Linked DNA regions of Homo sapiens: region 2 is linked to region 1. A link means that fine-mapping ties the variant in region 1 to the expression of a gene that starts in the linked region. Tissue or cell type: whole blood. Region 1 holds a variant in brackets; the other region holds the start of a gene. All regions are shown on one strand. Distances are between the middles of the regions.

Region 1 (7,818 bases):
ATTAAAAATCAAATTACTATCCCAGTTTATAAAAGCACATTAATACTTTTATAAGATATTAATAGACAATAATATATTACTTTGTATTACTACATAATATTTTACTATATAATATATTAACATATTGTCATGTTTCCAATATAGAAAAAGTCATGATATTAGCAACCACGAGAAAATGTCATAAAGAATTTGACTACATTAAGAGTAGAAACTTTTGCTTATTAAAACCACCATAAAGGGAATCAAAATACGGGTACATTTTGGGAGAGGCTATTTCAACAATACATTTGAAGCTGTTAAAGAATATCCAGAATATGGATTCTGGATTAATTCTGTAGAGCTGCCTCATTGCCCTGCACACACGTGAGAAAGCCCAGCCAGAAACAGGACGAGACTGAGTTCAGGTGGAGCTTTAGGCTAAACTTCAAACCATGGAATTGTCAGTTAAATAAATGGTTTTGTATTAAACCTCTATGTTGAGAGGTTTTCTTTAATAAGTTTACTCAGTATAATTATGATCTTCTACACATAGAAAAAGACATGCAACCTAATAAAATACCCAAAGATTTCAACAGGCACTCAACAAATAATTCTAAGAGAATAAATATATGAAATTTATACTGAGTAAACAAGGACATGAAAAATCTGCAATGATTTTTGAAGATTAGAGAACACCTAACCCAACTCCTCACTTCAGAAAATGAAGAAAAGGTGATGTCCCTAGCAGAGGGATAGAGTTAAGTTGCCAACTTTATGTTGTGAAACCAAAATTCCTGGTTTTGGTCCCATCCTGATTCTCTCCACCCATGCTGCCCCTCCTGTGGTAGAGTAGAAAACACTTATGCACACAAAGCATTTGTGCATAGGAAATGCCCAGGAAGTGGACTTAGTCCAAGGGTGTCCTGAGAACCTTACAAGAAGCACACGTGTGAAGGACACTGTGCAGGAGCCCTGATGCCCACCCAACTCCTCACCTGGATGTTCTCTCTGATCCGCTGCTCATTGTAGCTCTTGGCCAGGACCACAACCCCACGCTGCAGCTGGTAGCGCAGGGCAATCAGGGCTGGGGTTTGTTTGTGTTTCTTTGCTAAGGCACAAAGAACTGGGTCCTCCAAAAGAACTGGGGAGTTTGGGTCCACCCTGGAAGGAAAGCCAGAAATGCTGAAGTCTTGAGGCTGGATTCAGTTTGGTAGGAGGCTCCCTAAACAGACTAAGGTGTTCATTCTGCACCAGAGCCTCTCAAGTGAGGTCCCTGAACAGCAGCAGCATCACCTGGTATCTCATAAGAAATGCAAATTATCCCCTTACCCTGACCCATTGAGAATGAACTCTAGGAGACTGAGTATGCTATAACTAAAATTTTTCATCAAAATGGCATTTTAGGTAAACTTCCTGATGCTCTTATTACCATAGTTTATGTCGTTGGGTTCCCAGAGCACTGTGGGCAACCAGAACAATGTCTTTTGACTTGCAGAAATCCAGCAGTTTGCTCTGGTTGAGGTAAGGATGACATTCTACCTTTAGATGATCAAGAGAGAAAAGCATCAGATAATTCAAAACAGATATGTTAATATAAAGATTAAAATAAGCTGAATAAAGTATAACATTAAATTTGAACAGAATATTACTGTCAAGTAACAATCATTTTATAAAAATACAGTTTATATTACTGGTCTAAAAGTATATATAGAAATGTTATTTCTGAGCATTAGCAACTCTATGAACCAGAGCCAGTTTCTAACAACCTTTGACCACTAGAAGTGCACATGGCCAATTCTAGACTTGGGATAGGTTAAGATTCTGAGCTTTGAACATCAAATTGTGCCAGAATGTAAGAATTTCTTTAAAGACTCATAAGGGCAGGTTTAAAAGAGAAAAGTAGTTTTATAGGAATCCCAGTAACATTTGCATAGATTTGAGCATCAAAAACCAACAATGAATAAAATGAATTACAAATTATAGCAAAACAATCCATGTCTTCATAGTGTTGAGTGGTTAAAAGACAGAGTGATCAAAAGTATTTGCCTTCACCAATGGTGATTCATATGTTTTGGCTGTGTGTCCCCACCCAAATCTCATTTTGTAGCTCTCATAATTCCCACATGCTGTAGGAGGGGCCCAGGGGAGATAATTGAATCATGGGAATGGGTCTTTCCTGTGTTGTTCTCATGATAGTGAATAAGTCTCTCAAGATCTAATGATTTTAAAAATGGGTTTCCCTGCACAAGCTGTCTCTTTGCCTGCTGCTGTCCATGTAAGACATGACTTGCTCCTCTTTGCCTTCTGCCATGATTGTGAGGTGTCCCCAGCCATGTGAAGCTGTAAGTCCATTAAACTCCCCTTTTTCCCCACTCTTGAGTATGTCTTTATCAGCAGCATGAAAATGGACTAATATGGTAGAGTGGGGCATTGTTGAAAGATAGATACCTGAAAATGAAGTGACATTGGAACTAGGTAATATGTAGAGGTTCTGACAGTTTGGAGGGCTCAGGAGAAGACAGAAAAGTATAAGAAGGTCCGGAACTTCCTAGAGACTTGTTGAATGTCTTTGACAAAAATACTGATAGTAACCAGGCTGAGGTGGTCTCAGATGGAGATGAGGAACTTGTTGGGAACTGGAGCAAAGGTGACTCTTGTTATGTTTTAGCAGAAATTGACATTTTGTCCCTGCCCTAGAGATGTGTGGAACTTTGGACCTGAGATGATTTAGGATATCTGGTCAAAGAAATTTCTAAGCAAAGCATTCAAGCAGTGACTTGGGTGCTGTTAAAAGCATCCAGTTTTAAAAGGCAAACAGCATAAACGTTCAGAAAACTTGCAGTCTGATGATGCAGTAAAAATTAAAAACCCATTTTCTGAGAAGAAATTCAAGCCAGCTGCAGAAATTTGCATAAGTAACAAGGAGCCAAATGTTAATCACCAAGACAATGGGGAAAATGTCTCCAAGGCATGTCAGAGACCTTTGTGTCAGCCCTTCTCATCACAGGCCCAGAGGGAGGTGGAGGTCTAGGAGGAAAAAATGGTTTCATGGGCTGGGCCCAGGGTCTCCATTCTGTGTGCAGTCTAGGGACTTGGTGCCCTGCATCTCAATCACTCCTGCCGTGACTAAAAGGGGCCAAGGTACAGCTCAGGCCATGGCTGCACAGGGTGCAAGTCCCAAGCCTTGGCAGCTTCTATGTGGTAGTGAGCCTATGTGTGCACAGAAGTTAAGAATTGAGGTATGGGGCTGGTCGTGGTGGCTCACGCCTGTAATCCCAGCACTTTGGGAGGCTGAGGCAGGCAGATCACAAAGTCAGGAGTTTGAGACCAGCCTGACCAACATGGTGAAACCCTGTCTCTACTAAAGATGCAAAAATTAGCCAGGTGTGGTGGCACGTGCCTGTAATCCCAGCTACTCTGGAGGCTGAGGCAGGATAATCACTTGAACCTGGGAGGCGGAGGTTGCAGTGAGCTGAGATAGCGCCATTGCACTCCAGCCTGGGCCTGGGTGACAGAGTGAGACTCCATCTCAAAAAAAAAAAAAAAAATTGAGGTTTGGGAACCTCCACCTAGATTTCAGATTTTAGAGGATGTATAGAAACGCCTGAATGTCCAGGCAGAAGTTTACCACTAGGCATGCACTCTCATGGTGAACTTCTGCTAGGGCAGTGCTCTGGGGTCAGAGCCCCCACACAGTCCCTGCTGGGGCACCACCTAGTGGAGCTCTGAGAAAAGGGCCACCATCCTCCAGACCCTAGAATGGTAGATCCACTGACAGCTTGCACTGTGCACCTGGAAAAGCTGCAGACACTCAATGCCAGCCCATGAAAGCAGCCAGAAGGGAGGCTGTACCCTGCAAAGCCACAGTGGTGGAGCTGCCCAAGAACATAGGAACCACCTCTTACATCAGCATGGATGTAAATGGAGTTCCATTGACTCCTGGATGTGAAACATGGAGTCAAAGGAGATCATTTTGAAGCTTTAAAATTTGCCCTGCTGGATTTCAGACTTGCATGGGTCATGTAGCCCCTTTGTTTTGGCCCATTTCTCCCACATGAAACAGCTGTATTTGCCCAATGCCTGTACCGCCATTGTATCCTGGAAGTAACTAACTTGCTTTTGAGTTTACAGGCTTATAGGTGGAAGGGACTTGCCTTGTCTCAGATGAGACTTTGGACTGTGGACTTTTGATCTAATGCTGAAATGAGTTAAGACTTTGGAAGACTATTGGGAATGCATGATTGGTTTTGAATTGTGAGGACATGAGATTTGGGAGGGGCCAGGGGTGGCATGATATGGTTTGGCTATGTGTCCCCA[C/T]CCAAATGTCATCTTTTAGCTCCCATAATTCCCATGTGTTGTGGGAGGGACCTGGTGGGAGATAATTAAATCATGGGGGCAGATATTTCCCATGATGTCCTTGAGATAGTGAATAAGTCTCATGAGATCTGATGGTTTTATAAGGAGGAGATTTCCTGCACAAGCTCTTTCTTTGCCTGCCATCATCTATGTAAGATGTGACTTGTTCCTCCTTGCCTTCTGCCATGATTGTGAGACCTCCTCAGCCATATTGGAACTATAAGTCCCAGTCTTGGATGTGTCTTTATCAGTAGCATGAAAATGGACTAATATAGTGATTATTACAGTAATTTTTTTTCTAGGAAATGAATAATTAAAGGGAAGGAGTTAAGCTTTTGGCATATCTGAGAGCAGTAATTGTTTCTTTTCTTGACTTTGTGAAAAAAATTTTTTTATAATAAAACGTAAAGAATAGTAAAACTTGTAGTTAAAATTGAAAGTAATTACTTTAAAGCCCCAAGGAAAGAACAAATACAATAATACAATACAAAAATTTAAAACATCATTGATGTATACTCAATCATCATGTGAAAATTTGCTGTGTAATATAACTTTCCCTCTTATTTCACCCAGCAGATTACCAGTAATTACAAAGGGGAGAACACATGTCTCTGGAAATTAGATCTGGTTACCACTTGTTTAACCAAGTGATCAAAATTAGCATCACTAATTGTGGGACAATCTGTCATTTCATGCTGCCTACTGTGGTATAATTTCAGGGATACAGCAATGTAGAGGCAGTTTCTCACCAAAAATGTTTAACTTCTATGATATAAAGCATTCAAGTATAACTTCTAATCTACACAAACTTAAATTTTAAAAACTTGGAACAACAAGTTAACGGACCAAAGTACAACAAACTGAAAGTCACAATTGGATGTTTTTTTTTTGTTTTTGTTTTCATGATACATCTTTTATTTATTCTTCATTGTTTTATAATTCTCTCCTTAGAGGTCATACACATCTTTTATTAGGTATAATTTCAGGTACTTAATATCTTATGGTATCTTTAAATTTTTTCATCTTCTATTTATGGTTAAAATAGAGGTATAAGAGATCTTTCAATAAAACAATGGGAAATATGAATACTGACTGGATAATCAATGATATGAGGGCATTATTGTTATTTCCTTAGATATAATAATTGCACTGTTACTGGGAGAATATCTTCATTCCTATGCCATGCTTTGAAAGGTCTGTAGAGGTGAATTGTGATCATTGGAATATATTTTGAAGAGATTCAACAAATACTACCTGTATTGATGCAGATATACTCATATATGCCTATATACTTGCCAGGTTGGCAAAGTGTCAACAATTTTGGAAATAGATGATAACATGTAGATGTCCTGTATTATCCCTTCAAATTTCTCTAAAATTTGAAAGTTGTCATAATAATAATTGAGTAAAACTAATATTAAAACCACATTAATTCCTTTTTAATTGAAAATCATGATTTTGTATTATATTACCAAATACATAAATTTTAAATACATGTTTCAACTGTAGACCTGTACTCATTGACTCTAAGTAGTAAAAGAGTAAGAGAACAGAACCATACGCAGAATAAATGCTTCTAAACAGTTGATTTGATGACAGAAAGCAAAGCAGTGCATCAGAATAAGATGTGGACAGTCAAAAGGTCAGCTCAATGTTCTGCTAAATTTTCCTCAGTGTTGATTTCATCCACCATAACTAGTTATCTCCATAAATAGTTAACTTTCCTTTTTTTCACTCTTTAAAGTTTTATTTCACTAACTTTGCATCAAATTTCCACAATTGTGTTCTGGTTAATTTACTATACTTGCTTGACTTCCCAAAATGATAGTACCAAAATATTTGTGGGCTAGGGAGAAGAGACCATTTCAAGCATTACTGCATTTACTCATCTTCCACAAAGCCACAGAGTTGGGCATCTGATTGTTCAATGAAATGAAGCTTTGATAGCACCCAGGAGGGCATACAGGAAAACTAGGCTGTAGACAGTCTTGCATTTGTCAAAATCAGACCAGAGAAAATCTATTCTACATATATAGAAAAGGTATCATATTCATCTTTTTATATTACTGCAATATTTTTCTCTTCATTATCACATCATGGAGTTTCTCAAGTCCTTCCTTTATTTCATGTCCTATGATTGCACAGGTAGGCTGCAAATGCCAAGGAGTTGATGAGCTTAGTTCAACCATTGCTAACAATTTCTCAATTTCTGAGAGAGACAAGTTCTTCAAGTCTAGTTTCTTAGCACCTGTAAGTACAGGGACATCTTTATTTTCTTATACCCTATTTTATAAAGTTCAGTTTTGACTTCTTCCATCCTGTTAACATCAACAGTCCACAACAAACACAATGCCATCTGTGCATCTTGCATATGGCTTCTACAGTGTTCCTCATTTCTTCTGACCACCTACATCTCAGGAGTGAAAAGTGACTTTTAGAATTTTCCAAAATTACCTTAATCTTTTCAGTGTTAAATCCTTTGGTGTGGGTATGGTATTTACAAATTTATTGAATAGCAGCCTGTATAAAACAGTTCTTCTAGCACAGTTCAAACACCAAATAACAATGTGGAAGGACTGAAGTGAAGGCAGGATGGACAAGATAGTAGTTTAGCCAGTTAGCCCATTCCCCCATTTCCAGCTGCAAATAAATGTCCCAAAATGAAATGCTTTCTTTTTTATGCTTTAGAACCTCTCTTCCTAGGTGGCCCAGCTATAAGACTCCCGTTTTGGAGTCTGGGTCTAAATGAGGCAACATTGGCAGGCTTTTCTACACGAGGCAGGGGTGGGGGTAGCACGCCACATCCTTTCAGCTTATCTCTCAAGCAACTCTCATAAACGGGTAACTTCCTCTCCCTAACCTGGATGACTTTCATTGTTTCCAGTTAATTTTTAGTACCTGCTCAAGAACTATGAAAACAGAGATGACAAGAAAAAGCATTCAGACATCTAAACCCTATTTAAACCCGTAGTACCGATCTTCTCTTATTCTCACTGTCTCCTGATTTATTGCTCATCCCATGTTTTTATGGCCTCTATAATTATATACATTCTACTCCAAATCATCTTTACCAATCCACTCTCTGGTGGTCTTTCATACCTTAGAGATAAGTCCACCTTCTCCCTGAGTTCTGATTAACCATTTCAGTCCTCCTTGATGAAATTCACCTCCCCCAAAAATAGTACACACAATTTAGCATGAAGGTCTCTGTACCATTTTCATTAAGACTTCTCCAAGAAGAGGTGCAATTAAGGGTCTTCCGTTTTCTTCTAGACAGATGTTTTGCTTTCTAGAATCTTCTGTTTCACAAATGTAAGTGGAACAAAACAAATGGAAGCCAGGCAGTAGGACAGGAAGATGGACATTGAGAAGAGAAAGGAGAGGAGGCTGAGGGTGCTCACCTGGTTGCAGACAGGCTTGTACTTGAGTCCTGGCTTGTTGAGGATCATCTCCAGCTGCCTGCAGTTGAAGTTTGACACCCCG
Region 2 (7,818 bases), 61 kb before region 1:
TCCTTGCCTCTGCCCCCGGAAAGCCTTGTATTCCCAGGAAGAAGCTGCTGTCCTGGGGAAAGGTTAATGTGAGTGTTTTCTTCCTTTCAGGTTTTTGACTTTGAGTTGACTCCAGAGGACATGAAAGCCACTGATGGCCTCAACAGAAATTTCCGATATGCTAAGTTACAATTGTAAGTCATGCTTGCAGATTCTTTCACAGGCTGTTTTCTGTAATATGCAGGCAAACAGAGGAATACATCTTCCCTAAATCAGGAAGGCAGGCCAGATTTCAGGAATAGGTATGAAACAGGAGCTTCCCTATAGTCCTCATGTGGCTCAATCTGTGACCCAACAGGAATGTGAGTCAGTAAGTGAAACTGTTGACATCTGCACCATTGTGAATGCACTTCTTCAATTTTTTTTTTTTTTTTTCTGAGACAAAGTCTTGCTCTATTGCCTAGGCTGGAGTGCAGTGACACGATCTCGGCTCACCGCAACCTCTGCCTCCCGGGTTCAAGCAATTCTCCTGCCTCAGCCTCCTGAGCAGCTGGGATTATAGGCGTTTGCCACCACGCCCAGCTAATTTTTGTATTTTTAGTAGAGACAGGGTTTCACCATGTTGGCCAGTCTGGTCTCGAACTCCTGACCTCGTGATCTGCCCACCTCGGCCTCCCAAAGTGCTGGAATTACAGGCATGAGCCACTGTGCCCCGCCATGAATGCACTTCTTTAGTGCCCTTACTACCTGTGCCCGGTCCTGCACGCAGGGCCACTGCCTATTAGAATAGAAGGCACGGTGTCTATGACCCATCATACTTATAGGAGCCCATGATAATGTTCTAGCTTTAATTTATTTTAAAGTCAGAAGAAAAAGAGAATACAACAATGATGAATATGTAATAATGAATCCAGCCTCGTCTATCTTCATGTCTATACCAAGGCAATGTAAGACTTAATTTTAATATTTGTATAGAGCATTGGTCCATGAAAGCAAATGTGCATATGTCCTAGGGAAGTCACAGTGGGCCCTGCTTCCATGGCCTCCCCTAAGTGTCCAGTGACATTTCTCCTTACTGTGGCATTCCTTTTCCGAGACACCAACTATTTCTTCCAAATTTTTGTCTTCCTTGGCTTTCTTTACCTTCACAACTCCCATTTCCTCAGCTATATAATCTCACTAAGCTGAATGACAAATGAATTATGAAATTAATAGACCCTCAGTGCTAGTGACTGAGGTGTCCCCAGTGGCCTCCACCAAGTTAAGATCCTCTGGAATTTCTCCGGATCTTCGAGGCAAGACTCTTACTCCAGTGTCATCTTCGTCCATCTGAAGCCCACCTCTAAGGAACCCAACATAACTTCACTTTAGTTTATTCACAAACATGACGTTCCATTGGATCAACTGTGGCAGGATCTCAGGGTTGAGGAGAAAGATGACTAATCAAACAGAGCCAAGTTTGGAGGGGAGTTTAGAAACAGGGCGAAATATCATTTTAGTTAGGAAAATACTCAGTCTCCAAAACACATCTGAAAGGTCCCCCTTCTTTTTGTAAAACCATACCAGGCTTCCAAGAAAAGACATTTTCAATGAGAAAAATGTGAAAGCAACCTTTCTATACTCACAGGCCTTAAGTATAATCTGTGATCTGCCTCATGAGACTGTGAATGTCTCCTCTTACTCATCTCTGTGGCCCTATGTTAATACAGCTCCTGGTGCATTTAACTGCTTAGAAAGTACTCTTTAATGACACTCAATTAAAAAGAACGAATTATAAAAAAGAAAGCCCTTTTTGCCATTAAGGTAACATATTTTCAGGTTCCAGAGATAAGGGCATGTATGTCTTTGGGGGCCATTACTGAGCCTACTACACTAGTTTTGTAAGTAAATTTAGAGCAACTAAACTTTAGTTTTCTAATTTTTGTAATAGAAAGAATTCTATGTCCAGCCACTGGATCCTGAAACTCTAGACTTTTATCTCAGATATCAAGAGGAAAACCACATGAATAAATACCTGTTTCTTTAAAGCTGATGTAATCTTGACCCTATTGTATTTCCTCCTTCTGGATACATGCCCTTCATTATTTTATTCTAAAATTTATTCTCAGGATCTGTTGACATTGTCTTTTGTTGTTCATATGGAAAACTCAAGCTTTTCAGTTTGCCAACATTCTCAACTCTTCAGAATTTCTACTGATGTCTAGATTATACTTCAGGCAATGGATCCCATGTTTACTACTTAAACGTGCTTCATCTATGAAACCTTCAGTTGGACACATCTTATATTAATGAAGTCTCTTAACTCTGCAGTTTCTACTATACCTTGATTTATCAAGTTCTTGATTCATCAAGAGTTGTCATTAGGTCTCTCTTCTTTCCTCTTTGCATTCTTTCAATACCCATAGAAGTTTACGTATGAAAATTAGGCTAAATAATATACTAAATTGAAATTGATCAGACTCCACTTATTCTACACAAGTAAGTTTGGAAACATCTAATTTAAAGAAAAGCACTTTCTCACTATGGTTTCAGCAGTCAAGATGATTGCCTTTCCAACATCAGTTTTACTTTAAATAATTTGTTTAGGTCAGCCATGCTAATTTCATTGTGGTTGGCATAGGAGTCACTGTGGATAAAGAGTTGTGACCCAGCCTTAGCCAACGCCACATAAGAAGCACTGTGCTGGGTACTTCTAGGAGAGTTTCTCTCACTTCTAAGAAGGAGCCTTTGAAGAGAGGTTGCTTCTCTTCTTCAAGGGGATATTGTCCCATTGCAAGGTGAGGTGTGAAATTGCTGTGGAGTCTCCACCCAGCCTGAGGACGACATCAATACACAGAAGAAGAAAAAGGAGAAGATGAGAGAAATTCTGCACTCTCATGGATGACACCCAGAGTTTACCCTCCCTCTGGACTTCTTGTTATGGGACTAACACATTTTTGTGGATTTTAAACCAATTTGAATTACTTTTTTTGCACCTGCCTGTACTCTAATCCAAACAACCATCCAAGTTAATAATTTTCTCTTTACAATGCACCCTGCATTTTGTACCTATACAAGAGTGGTCAGAATGTGTGAAAACTGCTGAGTCATCCTGACAGCATGGCTCCAGTAGATTCTAGGGGTCGGCTATAGTATTGAGTGATATTAAAATAACAAATAATGCACAAAAGGCATGGATCTAAAAAAGTCTTTAGGAATCTTCACTCACTGAGAGCTCATATTCAGGACACAGTTTCTTCTTCAAATCACCTTGGACAAGTAAGTAACCCTTTTTGTTCCCTTTTCTGTAAAATAAGTTACAAGTTAAATCTACTTTGTAGGGTATTTGAGAGGATTCCCTGATAGTCTTGCCTGATACAGAATAGAAACTCAAAATCTTAGCTAGTAGCGTTGGTGTCATTGCTATTATCAGCACTATAATTTCCCTTGAGTTAGCCAGAAGAAATACTAAGTTTATTGGACAGTGAGTACAGGGTTGCCTTGCTCAGATGTACTGAGCCTACTGTCAACTTTAAGCCGCTCTCTGTGAGGTTAGAGTTTATCTTGGTCTGGGAGGACCAAGCAGAGTGCTTTAGAGATGACAAGCACAGCTGTGTTAAGAGACAACTTCCAAAGTTTGTGACCACATAGGATAAGTTACTCTAACTTTCAGTGCAGTTGAGCAAGAGTCCTTGATTGGTTTCTGTTGTGAATGCCAATATTTTTGTGTCATTTTGTGGGATCTTCCAGACACTGTCTGAGAGAAAATCTCCATAGCCTGGAGAGGAAGAAAAATGTCTGGATGGTGGGGTTTTGTCTCCTAGCACAGTTACCACCCAATGACCATCCTTCTTTACTTTTACAGGCCATTATGTTAAGCCTTTTTCATTTGTTGCTCTCCCATATCCCTATTTAGACTTTGATATCTGAAGGTGGAAACCATCCCTTTTCCCTCTGGAGCTGGAGTGATGTTCACGGAAGGCAAAGCAGCTGGGCCTGAATGGGGCTAAGCTCTGGGAGCCATGAGTGTCTCCACAGAAACAGAGCAGGACACCCGGAGGGACCACCCAAAACCTTGGGTCCGTTTGTGAGGCCATCAGATCCTCAGCTGGCATTTGACAAGGAGGATCAAGGTTGCAACAGCCTAAAGAAGTTTAATTTCAAGAAAACAGGTAACTTTTCTTTCTTCTTACTCATCTGAATTTGTGGATTGAAAATTATTTGCACCATATAGAGGAGTTTTCTAACTATCAAAGCACCAACAGTGGAGTTATTTGCTGCAGGACATGTTGAAATGATTCTCATTGAAGACAACTGGATGAATTCCCAGTGATGTTTGAAATGCAGGTTTGCCAGAGGAAAAGTCTGTTGAATTCTGTTTTTGAGAACCAGACATTTTCTTATAGATTAGGATAAACTCCTTGCATAATAAAGGTGTTTATCCATGGACTTCACATTTTATTCCTGTTGCTGTCTGATACTTTCCCCAATTACTTGGTTTAATTTGGCCTTCAAGCTCCCCTCCAACCCTGAGAGGCTGTTAGTGTGAACCCAGAAAGATTTATTCTGTCCCATGTTTTTATTTCTCCTGGAGCACAGTAGCACGAAAGAGGAGTGGATAGTATCCCCAAAATACAGAAGGGAGGAAACGGATGTGGAGAGAGAGGGAAGTAACCAGGGTACTTTGTCCACCTTCACATGATCCTAGGGATTATCCTGTGTCACAGGCACTTCAGAGTTGTTTTATTTTGGTGGTGTCTAAAAGATTTTAGTCTTAAAACACACATCCAGCCTGGGCCACAGACGTTGTCTCTACAAATAATAAAATAATTAGTCGGGCGAGGTGGCATGCGCCTGTGGTTCCAGCTAATAGGGAGGCTGAGGTGGAAGGATCACCTGAATCCAGGTGGCTGAGACTACGTAAGCTATGATGGCACCACTGCACTCCAGCCTGGACGACTCCTTCTCATAAAACCAAACCAATCCACACACACACACAGAGAAGAGAAACAGAGTTTACTTTTGAATATCGTTGAGAGAATATACTGAATTGCCTGGCGTGATGCGAATGAAGCAACATAGTTCTGTTCCTATAACAAGGACATTGGAAACAAAATTTTCACCAGTTGTAGCATTTCCAATTAGTCTAGTTGGGAGTCACCAGGATTAGATCAAAGTATAAATCCAAAGACTGTCAGAAAATATTCTGAATTCAGGAGAGAAGGGAAATCATGATAGAACAGGAAGTCTGATCTGTGTACAATCAGAAGATATCATAATCCAAATTTTACATCAAGTTAGGGGTACATGCAGGGTTTAACTCTGGAGAAACTTCACACAGAAGTCTGAAGACACCAAGAAGTGTCTTGGCAGCTGAGTAAAGGCAGCTTGGGATGAAGTTGAGAGTGCTGGGCATCTGCCAGGAAATTTCATGGTATTCAGCTTCATCAGAAATATGACTTGCAACTAAATATTTTTATCCCATTCTATAGGTTGCTTTCTGATGCTTAGTAGTCTCTTTTGATGCAAAAATGTTTTAATTTATGAAGTCTCATTCATCTATGTTTTCCTCTGTTGACTGTGCTTTTGGTGTCACTTGCATTTGATTTTCAGCAATTTCAGCCCTGTGGCTGTAAGACATAGGATTCTCACTCAGCGCACACCTAGAAGCTCTTAGGTCATGTGTGCTTAATCCAGGATTTTGAATTCCTGAGCTCACCCTTTTTTTTCTTCCTCTTTCCAGCAATATGAGGTGCAACTAACCAACATCATTCTATTCTTAGTTTTCCACAAATGTTTGAAAGTATCACATACAGAGTCACTATTTTTTTTGCCTCTTTTAAGTTGTTAAGTAGAGTATCAATGCAGATGTTTTGTGCACTCTATAAATACTTCATATCATGGACTATCAGTGCTCTCTTCATTATTGGAAATAAAGTCCTTCGCATTTTCAAGTCTAATCTGATTAGACTGACAATGCCAGAAACCCCAAAACCAATTCAGGAAACTCAAAATTCTATTCCTCTAGAACTGCTCCAGATACCAAAATCTATATTAGTCAGGGTTGTCCCAAGAAACAAAACATATAGTGTGTGTGTGTGTGTGTGTGTGTGTGTGTGTGTGTAAATGAAAGAGGAAATCTCACATGAAAGACTCAATCAATGCAGCAAACTTTATTTTATTTTATTTTATTTTAAATAAATGACCACAGCCACCTCACCCGTTAGTAACCACCACCCTGGTCAGTCAGGAGGCATCGACATCATATCTAAAACCTCCACTATCAACAAGATTATGACCTGCTGAAGGTTCAGATGACTATTGGCATTTCTCAGAAATAAAATATTTTTAACAAATGCATGCATATTTTTTTCTTTAGCTGTAATGCTATTGCACACTAAATATATGACAGTATAGTGTAAACATAACTTTATATGTACTGGGAAATCTAAATATTTGTGTGACTCATTTTATTGTCATATTTGCTGCATTGCAGTAGTCTAGAATTGAACTTGCAATATCTCTGAGATATGCTTGTATATAATATGTTGTCTATATCTTATCACAGTTTTTGACTAAATTTTATTTTTCCTGGTCCTAGTATAGCCACCACAGCTCTTTTTTGTCACTGTTTTTATAGAATATCTGTTTCTGTCTTTCACTTTCATACTAGTCACATCTATAGATGCAAACTGAGTTTCTAGTGCTGAGTATATAGTTGGATCTTGTTTCTTTTAATCCATTTTGCAAATTGATCTGCCTTTTGGTGTGGGGGTTTAATCCATTTACATTTAAAGTATATTCATGTGCTGCATAACAACATTTTGGTCAATGATTGACCATATATACAACAGTGGATTTATAAGATTACAAAACCTATTACTGCTCCTTTTATATGTTTATGTACACAAATACCATTGTGTTACAATTGCCTTATAGTATTCAGTAGAGGAACATGCTGCACTCTACTGTTTATAGCCTACAGGCAATGGTCTAGACCAGAAAGCCTATAGTAGAATATACCATTTAGATTCATGTAAGTTCACTCTATGGTGTTCACATGATGCTTGAATTGCCTAAAAATGCATTTCTCAGAATGTATTCTTATCATTAAATGACAGATAACTATAATTAGTGACAGCAACTTAATTTTGCATTTTAATATTTTTCTTTTCCTGTATGTCTATAGCATTTTGTTCTTCATATCCTCCATTACTAACATTTTTTTGTGTGTGTCACTGATTGATTTTTAGGGACACTTGGATTTCCCTCTCATTTTCACTTGTGTATATTCTATAATTGTTTTCTTTGTGGTTACCATGAAAATGACATAAAACATCCTAGAGTTATAAAATCTCCTTTGAAATCAATACACATTTAATTCTGTACATAAATTCCCCTTTTCCACATCTGTGTTTCTCTCAACTTCACATTACTGATGTCACTAATTACAACCTCATACATTGTGTACATGTTAACATAGATTTATAGTTATTTGTACACATTTGAATTTTAAATTTTTTTTTTTTTTTGAGACAGAGTCTTGCTCTGTTGCCCAGGCTGGTGTGCAGTGGCACAATCTTGGCTCACTACAAGCTCCGCCTCCCAGGCTCATGCCCTTCTCCTGCCTCAGCCTCCCAAGTAGCTGGGACTACAGGCGCCTACCACCATGCCTGGCTAATTTTTTATACTTTTTAGTAGAGATGGGGTTTCACCATGTTAGCCAGGACGGTCTTGATCTCCTGACCTCATGATACACCTGCCTTGGCCTCCCAAAGTGCTGGAATTACAGGCATGAGCCACTGCACTCAGCCAAATTTTAAAACTTGAACAGAAAGCTAGTATAAACAAAACTTTCAA

What was found. PIP is the estimated chance that this variant, and not a neighbour inherited with it, causes the effect.
Region 2: LINC02561 starts here. The variant in region 1 is fine-mapped to the expression of LINC02561 in whole blood (INTERVAL, PIP above 0.99).

The regions. Positions count from the first base shown.
Region 1 is chr10:5,206,316-5,214,133 of GRCh38, reverse strand. AKR1C4 (aldo-keto reductase family 1 member C4) reads right to left here. Exons shown (of 9, transcript NM_001818.5): 5 at 7,737-7,818; 6 at 1,409-1,518; 7 at 975-1,140. It also overlaps the pseudogene ARL4AP3. Among named protein-coding and RNA genes, the nearest start is that of AKR1C4, 13 kb to the right of the region's middle. RefSeq lists an enhancer at 4,000-4,169. The variant C/T (reference allele first, on the strand shown) is at 4,297.
Region 2 is chr10:5,267,510-5,275,327 of GRCh38, reverse strand. It overlaps LINC02561 (long intergenic non-protein coding RNA 2561), which reads left to right and starts at 4,092. Exons shown (of 2, transcript NR_149060.1): 1 at 4,092-4,130. It also overlaps the pseudogene AKR1C7P. RefSeq lists an enhancer at 2,590-3,789.